Linked DNA regions of Homo sapiens: regions 2, 3 and 4 are each reported to be linked to region 1. The links are microRNA targets in miRTarBase. Many come from high-throughput screens and were not tested one by one. Region 1 holds a microRNA gene; each other region holds the end of a gene's coding sequence.

Evidence for each region. Region 1 holds the annotated microRNA hsa-miR-4721 (UGAGGGCUCCAGGUGACGGUGG, at 1,111-1,132, shown strand). A microRNA usually pairs through its seed, bases 2 to 8, with sites in the 3' UTR of a target mRNA and lowers its output. Matches are read on the target gene's strand: a 7mer-m8 pairs with bases 2 to 8, a 7mer-A1 pairs with bases 2 to 7 and ends in A, and an 8mer does both.
Region 2: the mRNA of PRORP is a reported target of hsa-miR-4721. Seed matches in the 3' UTR shown: 7mer-m8 at 2,109-2,115.
Region 3: miRTarBase lists MBD6 as a target of hsa-miR-4721. Seed matches in the 3' UTR shown: 7mer-m8 at 2,048-2,054.
Region 4: miRTarBase lists OGT as a target of hsa-miR-4721. Seed matches in the 3' UTR shown: 7mer-A1 at 867-873.

The regions. Positions count from the first base shown.
Region 1 is chr16:28,841,910-28,845,058 of GRCh38, reverse strand. MIR4721 (microRNA 4721) reads left to right here and starts at 1,052; the gene lies at 1,052-1,140. TUFM (Tu translation elongation factor, mitochondrial) reads left to right here. Exons shown (of 10, transcript NM_003321.5): 4 at 4-108; 5 at 197-361; 6 at 508-640; 7 at 725-829; 8 at 958-1,109; 9 at 1,204-1,323; 10 at 1,911-2,648. The coding sequence ends at 2,084. RefSeq lists a silencer at 3,059-3,149.
Region 2 is chr14:35,273,225-35,276,379 of GRCh38, reverse strand. It overlaps PRORP (protein only RNase P catalytic subunit), which reads right to left. Exons shown (of 8, transcript NM_014672.4): 8 at 1-2,945. The coding sequence ends at 2,814. It overlaps PRORP-PSMA6 (PRORP-PSMA6 readthrough), which reads right to left. Exons shown (of 15, transcript NR_182666.1): 8 at 2,089-2,945. Among named protein-coding and RNA genes, the nearest start is that of PSMA6, 18 kb to the left of the region's middle.
Region 3 is chr12:57,528,923-57,531,922 of GRCh38, reverse strand. It overlaps MBD6 (methyl-CpG binding domain protein 6), which reads right to left. Exons shown (of 13, transcript NM_052897.4): 12 at 2,914-2,977; 13 at 1,775-2,763. The coding sequence ends at 2,689. It overlaps DCTN2 (dynactin subunit 2), which reads left to right. Exons shown (of 14, transcript NM_001261413.2): 14 at 1,148-1,872. The coding sequence ends at 1,234. Among named protein-coding and RNA genes, the nearest start is that of MBD6, 7.6 kb to the right of the region's middle.
Region 4 is chrX:71,573,462-71,576,461 of GRCh38, reverse strand. OGT (O-linked N-acetylglucosamine (GlcNAc) transferase) reads right to left here. Exons shown (of 22, transcript NM_181672.3): 22 at 570-2,842. The coding sequence ends at 2,668. Among named protein-coding and RNA genes, the nearest start is that of GCNA, 3.5 kb to the left of the region's middle.

The DNA of each region.
Region 1 (3,149 bases):
CAGAATATGATCACAGGCACTGCACCCCTCGACGGCTGCATCCTGGTGGTAGCAGCCAATGACGGCCCCATGCCCCAGACCCGAGAGCACTTATTACTGGCCAGACAGGTACTCAGAGCCTGGGTAAGGATGCAAAAGGGAAGAGTGGGGAGTTGGGCCCCTCTGTATATTGTCCCTGTCTCTCTGGCATCTACAGATTGGGGTGGAGCATGTGGTGGTGTATGTGAACAAGGCTGACGCTGTCCAGGACTCTGAGATGGTGGAACTGGTGGAACTGGAGATCCGGGAGCTGCTCACCGAGTTTGGCTATAAAGGGGAGGAGACCCCAGTCATCGTAGGCTCTGCTCTCTGTGCCCTTGAGGTGAACGCGGGGTCAGGCAGGGCAGCTGCTGCAGAGGGTGGGGCTGGATGGGCACCCAGAGCTCTGCTTTGTGTCTGGGAAGTGGCTCTTGATAATCGAGGGAAGTAGAATGGGGATTTCAGAGTCCTGGCACTTCCCCTCAACAGGGTCGGGACCCTGAGTTAGGCCTGAAGTCTGTGCAGAAGCTACTGGATGCTGTGGACACTTACATCCCAGTGCCCGCCCGGGACCTGGAGAAGCCTTTCCTGCTGCCTGTGGAGGCGGTGTACTCCGTCCCTGGTGAGGACTCTGTCTGTTCCCACGCACTCTCTCTAGCAGAAGCCTAGCTCGGGGTCCCTGATATCCTGTCTTATTCCCTCCCAGGCCGTGGCACCGTGGTGACAGGTACACTAGAGCGTGGCATTTTAAAGAAGGGAGACGAGTGTGAGCTCCTAGGACATAGCAAGAACATCCGCACTGTGGTGACAGGTTTGGGAAGCCAGTCTGGAGAGCAGGGCCTGGCTGAAGGGTGGCCTTACCCCGGCAGATCCCTTGTGCCTTCCCTCTGTCTCACATTCGCCTTCCTTCTCCCTGCTCCTTTTCCCTTTCCGTCCTAGGCATTGAGATGTTCCACAAGAGCCTGGAGAGGGCCGAGGCCGGAGATAACCTCGGGGCCCTGGTCCGAGGCTTGAAGCGGGAGGACTTGCGGCGGGGCCTGGTCATGGTCAAGCCAGGTTCCATCAAGCCCCACCAGAAGGTGGAGGCCCAGGTGAGGGCTCCAGGTGACGGTGGGCAGGGTTGAGCCAAGCTCTCCCCAGCCTCCAGCCAAGCCCAGCTCACCGTCATTGCTTGCTCTCCTCCAGGTTTACATCCTCAGCAAGGAGGAAGGTGGCCGCCACAAGCCCTTTGTGTCCCACTTCATGCCTGTCATGTTCTCCCTGACTTGGGACATGGCCTGTCGGATTATCCTGCCCCCAGAGAAGGTACGGTGGGTGGGAGGAATGTAGGGTGGAGGGGGGACTTTTTATATTACCTTTGCTTCACTCATAGTTCCAAAGATACACTGTGACAACCCGAGTGGCTTTATTTCCTTAGGTGGAAAGGGGCTGCTTGCCGCTGCTAGCCAACAGAAGGGGCATGGCCCATGGACTTAGGGGCGGGAGTCCTCATCCAGTGTGCCCTAAGCTGAAGCAGGTTAAAAGTTTAGCTCTGCCAGCATGTACCCACAGAAAGATTTCCTAGAAAAGGTCTCTTCTTTTTGAGCGTTTCATTATATATGAAGGCTTAAGAAGTTCTGTGACCAAGAAACCTGCATAACCCACAACTTCCTAGACATTTTTTTCTCAAGAACATACCTTAGGAACACTCATCACTGGTCTCTTTTATGTTTTCCTGTCTCAATATGCTGTTTGCATCTGCCTGACAGCCTGGGATGGATGAAGCTGTCCCCAGGCAGAACCATTCCCCTGCTGCATTCTCCCATGACTCTTAACCTCCGAGGTAGCCAAAAAAGACTTAAGGAATGAAGGCACCCTGGAGGCCACGCATGATCCTTCTCTTCCTACTCTAGGAGCTTGCCATGCCCGGGGAGGACCTGAAGTTCAACCTAATCTTGCGGCAGCCAATGATCTTAGAGAAAGGCCAGCGTTTCACCCTGCGAGATGGCAACCGGACTATTGGCACCGGTCTAGTCACCAACACGCTGGCCATGACTGAGGAGGAGAAGAATATCAAATGGGGTTGAGTGTGCAGATCTCTGCTCAGCTTCCCTTGCGTTTAAGGCCTGCCCTAGCCAGGGCTCCCTCCTGCTTCCAGTACCCTCTCATGGCATAGGCTGCAACCCAGCAGAGGGCAGCTAGATGGACATTTCCCCTGCTCGGAAGGGTTGGCCTGCCTGGCTGGGGAGGTCAGTAAACTTTGAATAGTAAGCCAGCCTGTGTCCTGTGTCCTTTGTGCAAATTGGAGAGGATAGGGGAGGACAAAAAGGGTGTTGAACCCCAGACAGATGGGGAGCTTGTGAGATCCCAGAGCAGTTTTAACGGATAAATCAAGTCCAGTGAGCTTAGTGATTGCCTAGACACAGTAGGATGCCGTTATTCAGCCTCCTGGGAGATAGTGGGAAAGAATGTTCTATCGCTCTGGAGCCAGCATGGCTTCAGCTCAGGTGCCAAACCCATCTTGTTTCCTCGGAATACTAAGTGAATGTCTAGCATCCATTCACATTCTGTGGGAACAGGGACTGGACAGGCATACCTCAGATGCTGTAGGTTTGCTTCCAGACTACCACAATAAAGCAGGTCACAAATTTTTTGATTTCTCAGTGAAGTTATGTTTATATTATAGTTGACCCTTGAACAATGCAGGGGTTAGGGGTGTCAGCCCTCCTCCATGCAGCCACAAATCCACATATAACTTGTTTTTGAGATGGGGCCAGCTTTGTGCAGTGGCAGTATCATAGCCAATGACTCCATGATGACTTGAAATATAATCAGCATTGGCAATTTTCGACGGTCTCTATGGGGAGGCTGAACAAAGGGAAAAAAAGAGATATAGGGTCTCACTGTCACCCAGGCTGGGTGCGGTGGCACCATCCTAGCTCACTGCAGCCTTGGACTCCTGGGCTCAACCTTGGTCTCCCCAACTGCTGGGATTAGAGGTGTAAGCTACCGTGTCTGGCTCCTCACATATAACTTGACTCCCCCAAAATGTAACTAGTAACCTGCTGCTGGCCAGAAGCCTCGCTGATAGCATACAAACACATACTTTGTGTGTTATATGTATTATATACTGTATTCTTAAAACTAGAGAG
Region 2 (3,155 bases), not on the chromosome of region 1:
CCATTCAGGATACTTGGGCCCTTAAAAGAGGTACACCCCTGTTCCTTCTTCTCATTCTTACCTCCCTCCCTTTGAGACAGGGTCTCACTCTGTCACCTAGGCTGGAGTGTAGTAGCATGATCATAGCTCACTGTAGCCTTGACCTCTGGGGCTCAAGTGATCCTCCCACCTCAGCCTTCTGAGTAGCTGGGACCACAGGCATGTGCTACCATGCCCAGCTAATTTTTAAATTTTTTGTCGACACGGGTCTCCCTGTGTTGCCTAGGCTGGTCTCCAACTCCTGGCTTCAAGCAATTCTCCCATTTGGCCTCCCAAAGTGCTGGAACTGTAGGTGTGGGCCACCATGCCCTGACTCCTCCCCCATCTCTATGTGCCAGTAGAAGAAAGAGTATTTGGGAATTAGAAGAGCTGGGTTATGGCTGAAATGTCTGCACTAACTAGCCGTGGGATTCAGGGAAGCCAGGTCATCTTCCTGGGTCTGTTCCTCATCTCCAAAATGGACTTTACATGCTCTAAGGTTACTCCTGCTCTAAAGTTCTAGTTTTCTTCTTGTAGCTTCTCCCGTCTTTTTTTTTTTTTTTTAAGAGACAGGGTCTTGCTATGTTGCCCAGGTTGGTCTCCAACTCTGGGCCTAAAGTGATCCTCCTGTCTTGGCCTCCCAAAGTGCTGGAATTAACAGGTATGAGCCACCACTTCGGCCTCCTCCTCTATCTCTATGTGCTCCTTTTTTGGGAATTTGCATTAGCCTTTTAGATGGGCTTAATAAATACTTTTTGTCTTCTTAAAATGTTTTTCTTAAAACTATGATAGTTACTTAAAAAAAGAAGTTTAGCTCACTGAAAGCACAGTTTCCTAAGTATGTAGTTTATGAAATTTGGAAAATAAGCAGACTGAATTTATTAGAGCTTTTGCAGTATCTTTTAATGCTCTCAATATATCCAATGTTTTCCTGGAGAGCTCTTTTGTCTTGGTGTGCAGTAATGTTGCATTCAGTAAATAGGTAAGAAGATAAAACGTCCCCTCCTTGGATTTTCCTAAATTGTTTCTCTGTGCATAATACATACCCTAATTATACACATGTATATGGTTTGATATAAAAGAGGTCATTGTTTATTTCATGTAAGTAATTATCTTTTCTTACCCTAACTTACTTTGAGGTATATTGTCATAAATGTAAATATATCAATTTAAAATGTTTAGTGTGAGGAATTTTAACTAATATATACATATAGCTATGTTACTATTACCCAAATCAATATAAGAAACTTTCCATCACCCCGAGAAAGTTCTCTCAAGTTCTCTCATATCCCTTTCCTCAGGCAATTACTATTCTGATTTTTATCACAATAGAGTAGTTTTTGCCTGTTCTTGCATATTGAATACAGTATGTATACGTAAAGAAAGAACTATCATGAAGGGGTGCAGACATGAATATTTTCAGCTGAAATCAAGGGCTAATAAACTGTAAGCTGGCTAGTGAGTGGAAAAAACAGAAATGTAACTATTAAAATATAATCACTTTGTTAAATTAAGTCAAACTTGATTAAGTGGAAAAAAATTGGCATATTTTAGAAAGCCCACATATACTGAATGATGAAATTAATAGTGTTCACAAAATGTTGAACCAATTTGGAAAAGAGATTATAGAATGAAGAAAAAACCATCATAGTCTAGAGAAGTGAGGCTGGGCACTGTGGCTCAAGTCTGCAATTCCAGCACTTTGTTTTGTTTTGAGACAAGGTCTCGCTCTGTCACCCAGGCTAGAGTGCAGTGGTGCAACGTTGGCTCATTGCAGCCTTGACCTCTGAGGCTCAAGCAATCCTCCTACCTCAGCCCCCAAAGTAGCTGGGACTATGTGTGCAAACTACCATGCCTGGCTAATTTTTAAATTTTTTGTAGAAATGAGATCTTACTATGTTGCCTAGGCTGGTCTTGAACTCCTAGACTCAAGTGATTCTCTCGCTTCAATCTCCCAAATTGCTGGGGATCGACTGAGGCCAGGGGTTGGAGACTAGTCTTGTCAACAGAGTGAGACAGCCATCTCTACAAAAAAAAAAAAAAAAATTAGCCAAGCCTGGTGATACATGCCTGTAGTCCCAATTACTCAGGAGGGCTGAGGTAGGAAGATTGCTTGAGCCTGGGAGTTTGAGGCTGCAGTGAACTGTGATCACGTCACTGCACTCCAGCCCTGGCGACAGAGTAAGTTGAGACTCTATTTCCAAAAAAAATAAGAAAAAGAGGAGTGAATGCCCCCTCTTCTCCAATCCAAATAATTGGATGATAAGTAATTAAAAACTGCTATGAATAGTAAGCCTTTAGTATCTTGGCCAGTTTATTACAGAGGACGATAAATGATTCCATGTGGATAGGGCATAACATACAGAGAATGAGACTATGCCAGAAATGGGAGGAGGCATTTGAAACAACATGAGTATCTCAGGGACAGATGGATTGATTCTGCTATTGGTAGGCCTGGAAGGCAAGGTCAGAAGTAGCAAAAAATGGATACCAAAAGCACTATTAGTCACCCAAGCTAAGTGGAATAGCTGGCCCAGTAGGAGAAATGCAGGTTTTGCTCTACACTAAGTTCTCCAACTCTTGATAAGCCTCCAAAAACAAATGTTAGGGGAAAAAAACGCAGCTGGTTATGAAAAGATATATCTCATTTCATTAAAAAATCAATGTCAATGCTGTTAATAGAATCCTTTTATCTTCAGGACAGAGGCAATGCCCTAAACAAACACCAGCTCAAGAGCCTCTGATGCCAACCTAGAGGGTACCCAAACACAAACTTAGCATAGAGGTAAGAATCTCTATGTCTTTTGGTGGAGGCAAAGCCATTTGGTTGGTACTTCACAGGAACATCTTTCTACCAAGTCTTCATCATATGGTATGTGCCACGAGTCTCCAGTTGTTTGCACCACTGTGTCATAGCTGAGAATACGCTGTTGAATTAAAAAGAGAACAAAACATTGAGAACAACACTAAAGGGCTACTTGGCCATTTCTCTTTCTGACACTTCTCAAGTTTGCTCCAGAAGAGTATTGATAATGGATTATCTCACTTAATAATGGATTTTCAAACAGCAGCAAACTCTGTGAAGATGAGCCCTAATATTAGGAGTTCCTTTTTTTGAGGGGTCTCATTTTTAAGTC
Region 3 (3,000 bases), not on the chromosome of region 1:
AGCATGGTGTTGTGGCAGGGGGTTGGTCTGGAGTCTCCATCCTGCTTTCAATGTGAAGGCCCTTTGACAACTTATTTAACCTATGAACCTCCATCTTTCCATCTGGGAAATTATACCTCCCTCAGAGTTATGTAGATGAGGTGAAATAATATGGGCAAATTGTTAGGGGCTAGTGAACATGTTTTCTTATAAAACCCCACTCTTTCCCTTTGTCGTCTCAACTTTACTCTCCCTGATAAGCACAGTACACTGGAAGGAATCCGGGCTTTGAAGTCAGAAGCAGGCCCTAATCTCGTTCTGTCGCTTCCTTTCTGGCCCTGGACAATGAGCCTCACCTAGCTCCTTCATTCTTTTAGTAATGCCTGGCACACAGCAAGTCCACAATTTCTTATTGTTTTTTATTTTTAAGACAGAGTCTCGCTCTGTTGCCCAGGCTGGAGTGCAGTGGTGTGATCTCAGCTCACTGCAGCCTCCACCTCCCGGGCTCAAGCAATTCTCATGCCTCAGCCTATTGAGTAGCTGGGATTACAGGCACGCACCACCACACCTAATTTTTTTTTTTAGTAGAGACGGGGTTTCACCATGTTGTCCAGGGTGGTCTCAAACTCCTGACCTCAAGTGATCCCACCCATCTCGGCCTCCCAAAGTGCTGAGATTACAGGCGTGAGCCACTGCACCTGGCCGCAAGTCCCAATTTCTGTTGGAGGCACTGTTCTCAGTGCTGGAAGGAGCATTAAAGTCGAGAGACCAGCATCAATCACAGGATCACTGAGATAAATGAAAAAATATATAAAGGACTTAGAATAATATCCTTTTCCTCCAGAGCAGTTTTCTAACATTTTGAACCAGTGAAACCCTCATTTCAACAAAATCTTATTTAGCTCTCATTACATAAAACAGATTTTAAAAAACTGTTCTGGCTGAAGTCAGGATGGGAATTCTCGAGTCCTACCTGCTTGGGCTCACCCCAAGCGTGGTCTATGTACTCTAAGGGTAGCTTGAAAATTGGTGCTATAAACATCCCCCCTCTGTGGCCCACAAATTGTGCTTCCATTTCTTGTCTTCTCTCTCAGAGAATTCCTTCAGGTCCTCATCCAGTTAAGCAACTGGACCTGACAAAGAGTAAAACCTCTCTACCACTTTGTAGGTGCAGACAACCATGCGTGAAAACCTGGCCACAGTTGAGGGGAACTTTGCCAGCATTGATGAACGGATGAAGAAGCTGGGAAAGTGAGCACATTTGGGAGCTGGAGAACAGGGGTTATCCCTACCCCTGTGAACTCTGTTAACAGCTTACATAGGGTTTCCCCTTTACTATAACTCTAGCATCCCCATCCCATTTGACACTGGGGGCAAGGGTTCTTCTTGCATGTGGGGTTTATACCCCTCCCCTGATGAATACAGAGTGGTAGCTAGGGGTTGGTTATCATCAGAAGGTGGTCTCCCCTCAGGCCTGGGGGATAAGGACGTGGGCCCAGCCACATGCCAACTCATGTCCAATACTGCTTTGCCTGGTGTGGGGAAGGATTGGGTCTTGTCCCCCAACACAGCTTCTGTGGCTGACTGTAATACTGTACAACTGTTTCTGACCATTAAATGCTGTTGTACTCTGTGTGGCCTCTGCTGTGTTTCCTGGGGAGGAAGCAGCACTAGGATATAGATATTCATTCGTCATAACAGGCAATCTAAGCCACTCTATACTACAAGAGATGGATTTAAATTGTAACCTGTTCTTACCAAAGAACTAAATAAAAAATGAGTACAGAGCCAGAGCCAGAGTTTCAAAATATTCTCATCTGTTAAATTAAGAGTGTCTCCCATAGAAAAGCAGTGGAGGCCCCACAGGGCAAGTACAAAACAGAATTAAAACTCCCAAGGGTCTTGTCTTTACAAAAGAAAAGGCAGGAGGCAGCCCCTGGACAGCTGGTCATGCTGGCCGCTCCGGTTGGACCACGTTGCATAATCCTCAGTCGCATCATCACAACGTCTCTGAGCGTTTTGATGGGGGGAGAAGGGGCAGTGTAGTGTGTATGGGAGGAGAGGCCCAGAGGGCTCTCTTTGCCCCCTTACCCCCTTTTTTATATCCCAGAGGAAAGTCGGGGGAACCTGGCTACACCTTGAAATGAGGCTATGTGTTTCAAACCTGGGGACGGGGTAAGAGAGGATCTGTGCTTTGAGCAACCTGAGCCAGAGGCAGAGGGGTGTTGGAGGGGTAAGGGGAGGATGCATGATGCTTATTGCTTTGTACCTTTCACTGGGAAGGAGGGCAGCAGCCAACAGTAGCTCACAGGTTTGTAAACTGAGCCTGTTGGCTTTAAGAAGGGAGGCAATGAAATCGAATTAAATATAAAAGAGTCATTTGTGCAAAAATAACTTAAACAAATAAAAGACCTGGGGAAGGGGGTGTTCCCCTTAGCGCCTGGTGGGGAAAGGGCCATATACCATCCCCCCCAGGCCTTTTCAGTGACATGGCTTCGGGGGGGCGGGGGGGTGGTGGGGGGGGGTGAACTTCCCTGCCCCCTGCAATGGCTCAGGATGGGATTGTAGGGGAAGGAGTTGCATTTGTGCTCTGAGTGGGGAGTAGTGCCCCCACCCACTGTCCACAGGTGCAGGTGGCTGGCAGGGGCTCCCAAGGCTCAGCACTCAGCTCTCCCCAATCAGGGTCAGATCCAGCTCCAGGTATGGCTGCTATGGGGCCAGTTTCCTCCTCTTGTTTTTGGCAGGACGGCCAGGGCGGGCCCGGGGAGGCAGAGGGACAGCTGCCTAATATCAGAGGGGAAGTTGATAGAAGTGGTCAATTGCTAGGTATCAGGAAGTCTTCTTTTCTCCCCACTCCCTCTAACCCTCCTTTCCTCCTGCCGCCTCATCCCTTACACCCTACCCATCCACCCATCCACCCAAACACACACTTACTCGGGCTGTAGGGCTGGGTTCCAAGGTAATGTCCTGGCGGGAGCTATTGCTGTTCCGGGTAGGGCTGCAATAAGGGGCACAGATGAT
Region 4 (3,000 bases), not on the chromosome of region 1:
AAGCAGAGAGGTCACAAGCAAAAGAGGAGCAAGCATGAATGGGTGTGTTGGGGATCACAGGCTTTGTCTTTTTTTTTTTTTGAGATGACATCTCACTCTGTTGTCCAGGCTGGAATGCAATGGCACGATCTCAGCTCACTGCAACCTCTGCCTCCCGGGTTCAAGCGATTCTCCTGTCTCAGCCTCGCATGTAGTTGGGATTACAAGCGTGTGCCACCACTCCCGGCTAGTTTTTTTGTATTTTTAGTAGAGACAGGGTTTCACCATGTTAGCCAGGCTGGTCTTGAACTCCTGACCTCAAGTGATCCACCTGCCTCCGCCTCCCAAAGTGCTGGGGTTACAGGCGTGAGCCACCACACAAGGCCACTTTGCCTTCTTAATGGATCATAAACTAACCCCACCCTCTACCAGACCTGGCTGAGAAAACAATTCCTAATATCATAGCTACAGTAGGGAAATTTGGTCCTTTCATGCTGTTTGGAGGTGTTTAAATATAGGTTTCATCATTGGATGACACTATTCTTCAGTCCAACACTCAATATAACAGGATACAAAATACATCAGCCGTATTAAAGGGAAATCATTCATTTATTAAGGATCGCAAGACAACATCTTAATTTCTGTAGTACGATTTAAATGTTTTACTTCTTTGATAAAGCAGAGTACAATAGAAAAAAAACAATTAGTTTCCAGTAATATCTATATCTCTAATCAGAATTAAGTCTTCCAAGACATATTACCTGGAAATAAAAGCCTGTTACAATAAGCAAAGCTTCAACCAGAGCGGCTACTTTTCGTGCCAGGAAAAAGTTCATCCCTATAGGAGGAATGATGTGCTATGTAAAATGGCTGTAAGGTCACAGCCTTGAGGGCATTGGAAGTATATTATCCTATTCCACATTAAGTATTTCAGCGAATTTCAAACATCAGTTTATCTGCAACCATGCTGGCAACCTTTAACTGATATTTCAATCAACCGGTAAAAAATAAATTAAGAAATCCCTTCACGGATATTCCGTGATTTACACTGTTAAAAGGTACACTGTTCATTAACATGTAATTCTGGTTCAGAATTACCTTTGAGACTCCTTGCTCAAAATTTGGTTAACAGTAAGAATCTTCCAGAAATTCAAGTTCTTATTAATCAATAATTTGTCAGCTAGGATACATTCAGGCATCAGCTGCAACTACAGAATAGGTGCACAGCCTCAGCGCTTTGGAAAGACATAATCTAGAACACTACTAGCAGACAAAAAATTACCTGCAACTGGATAGCGTAAGTGCAGTATAGCGAGACAAAACATATATTCATATGTTGGCTTGTTTAAGCCTCAAACCCTCGACCCTTTGTTGAGATCCCATAATTTTATTCCTATGATTTTAATAACTCAAGTTCCAGGAGGACTATAAGTCTAATTTGTACTCCAAACCAAACAGCAGTGCAGTTCGCTACTACTGAGGCTGAATCTGTACAGACTTCAAGACCAAGTCCAGAAGACAGTTATTATCTAAAAAATAATTACTTGAATACATAGATGATCCTTCAGAGATTTTACCTATAACCTATTTCTTGATGAAGGTTATTTAATGCACTGGAGATAACTGTGACTTACTGATCAAATACTTGAATACTTATACTTACCTGGGATTTCATTTCTGCTGAAAGAAATAGGAAGAACAGGACTCACTTAAAAAAAAAAAAAAAAAACTTTAGAAAGGAAGGTAAAAATCTTACACACACTATCACTTTTGGAAGCAGCATAGAAGGGGCAGTCAAGGGTAAAACACTGGTGAAACAGGTCAAAATTAGGAAAAAAAAAAAAACTATATTATTATCAATGACAGTACCACAACTGTGCCCTTGATAATTAGTAATCACTCCTAAAAATCTTCATTTGGCACCAGATGGTGTGTTTAAAACACCCTAGGATGTTTTGAATCAGGCTTGATTTTGTTAGTTGAGTTACAGGAGAATTTTAAGGGTGAGGGTATGGGGGTCAGGGAAGAAAAGGAAATGGGAAATGGACCAGAAAAAATCTTGAGTCATCATCTAAATCAACAAAGCACTGATAGCTCCAAATATTAGGTCAGACACTAAAACGACTGATATAGGCTCAAGTGGTTTATAAAACCTATAAAAAGACTACACCAGCAAAGTCCCTGTCAATCTGTCAGAGTTCAGAAACTAAAACAGGGAGTAACATTTTAGCTTAAAACCTTATCTCAAGAGAATCATATACACTTCACATGAATAAAAATACCTGAAACCAAACATTTTTAAAAGCTCCAGTACCCAAAATATAAAGAAAAAAAAATCCAGAAGACTGAATCAATCCATGGAATCACAAAGCGGCCGGACAATCTATATCTCCCCTCCACACTAACCATCCCATGGAAGACCAAGGGAGATCAGACCTTCCAGACCTATGCACCATCTGGTCGCCGCAAAATTCTACGGAGATTCCTTGTGGAAAAGCAGTTTCCCATCTTTTGTGTCTCTCCCTACCATGCAGGAAGCAAGTCTGGCTGTGCTATTCTATTACCATTATATATCACCCATCTGCAACAAGGTACTGTACAGACAAGTAAGAAGTATGTTATCTAGTTCCCTTTCCCCCAGAAGGTTGAGGCTCAGGTATAGGGGTAATTCTCCTGTGCAGTCTTTATTTATGCTGACTCAGTGACTTCAACAGGCTTAATCATGTGGTCAGGTTTGTTGCCAGCTGCATAATGCTCCCACATCTGTAGATAGAGCCGCTCTAGTTCCATTGTGTATTGTTTGGTGTTGAACAGAGGGCTAGATATTCTTTGCTTCCAGACTTTGCCACGAACTTTCTTCAGGCTGGGTAATAAAAAACAAGAACCCAGTTTACAAATCAGAGCAGAAACTCAGAAACACACCCTATAAATACCTAGTCGCATTTGTGGCAAAAAATGCATGACCAAACTCTACGCTATCTCATTTCTTGATTGGCTTCGTGCTAAAAAGGGAAGGGTCAC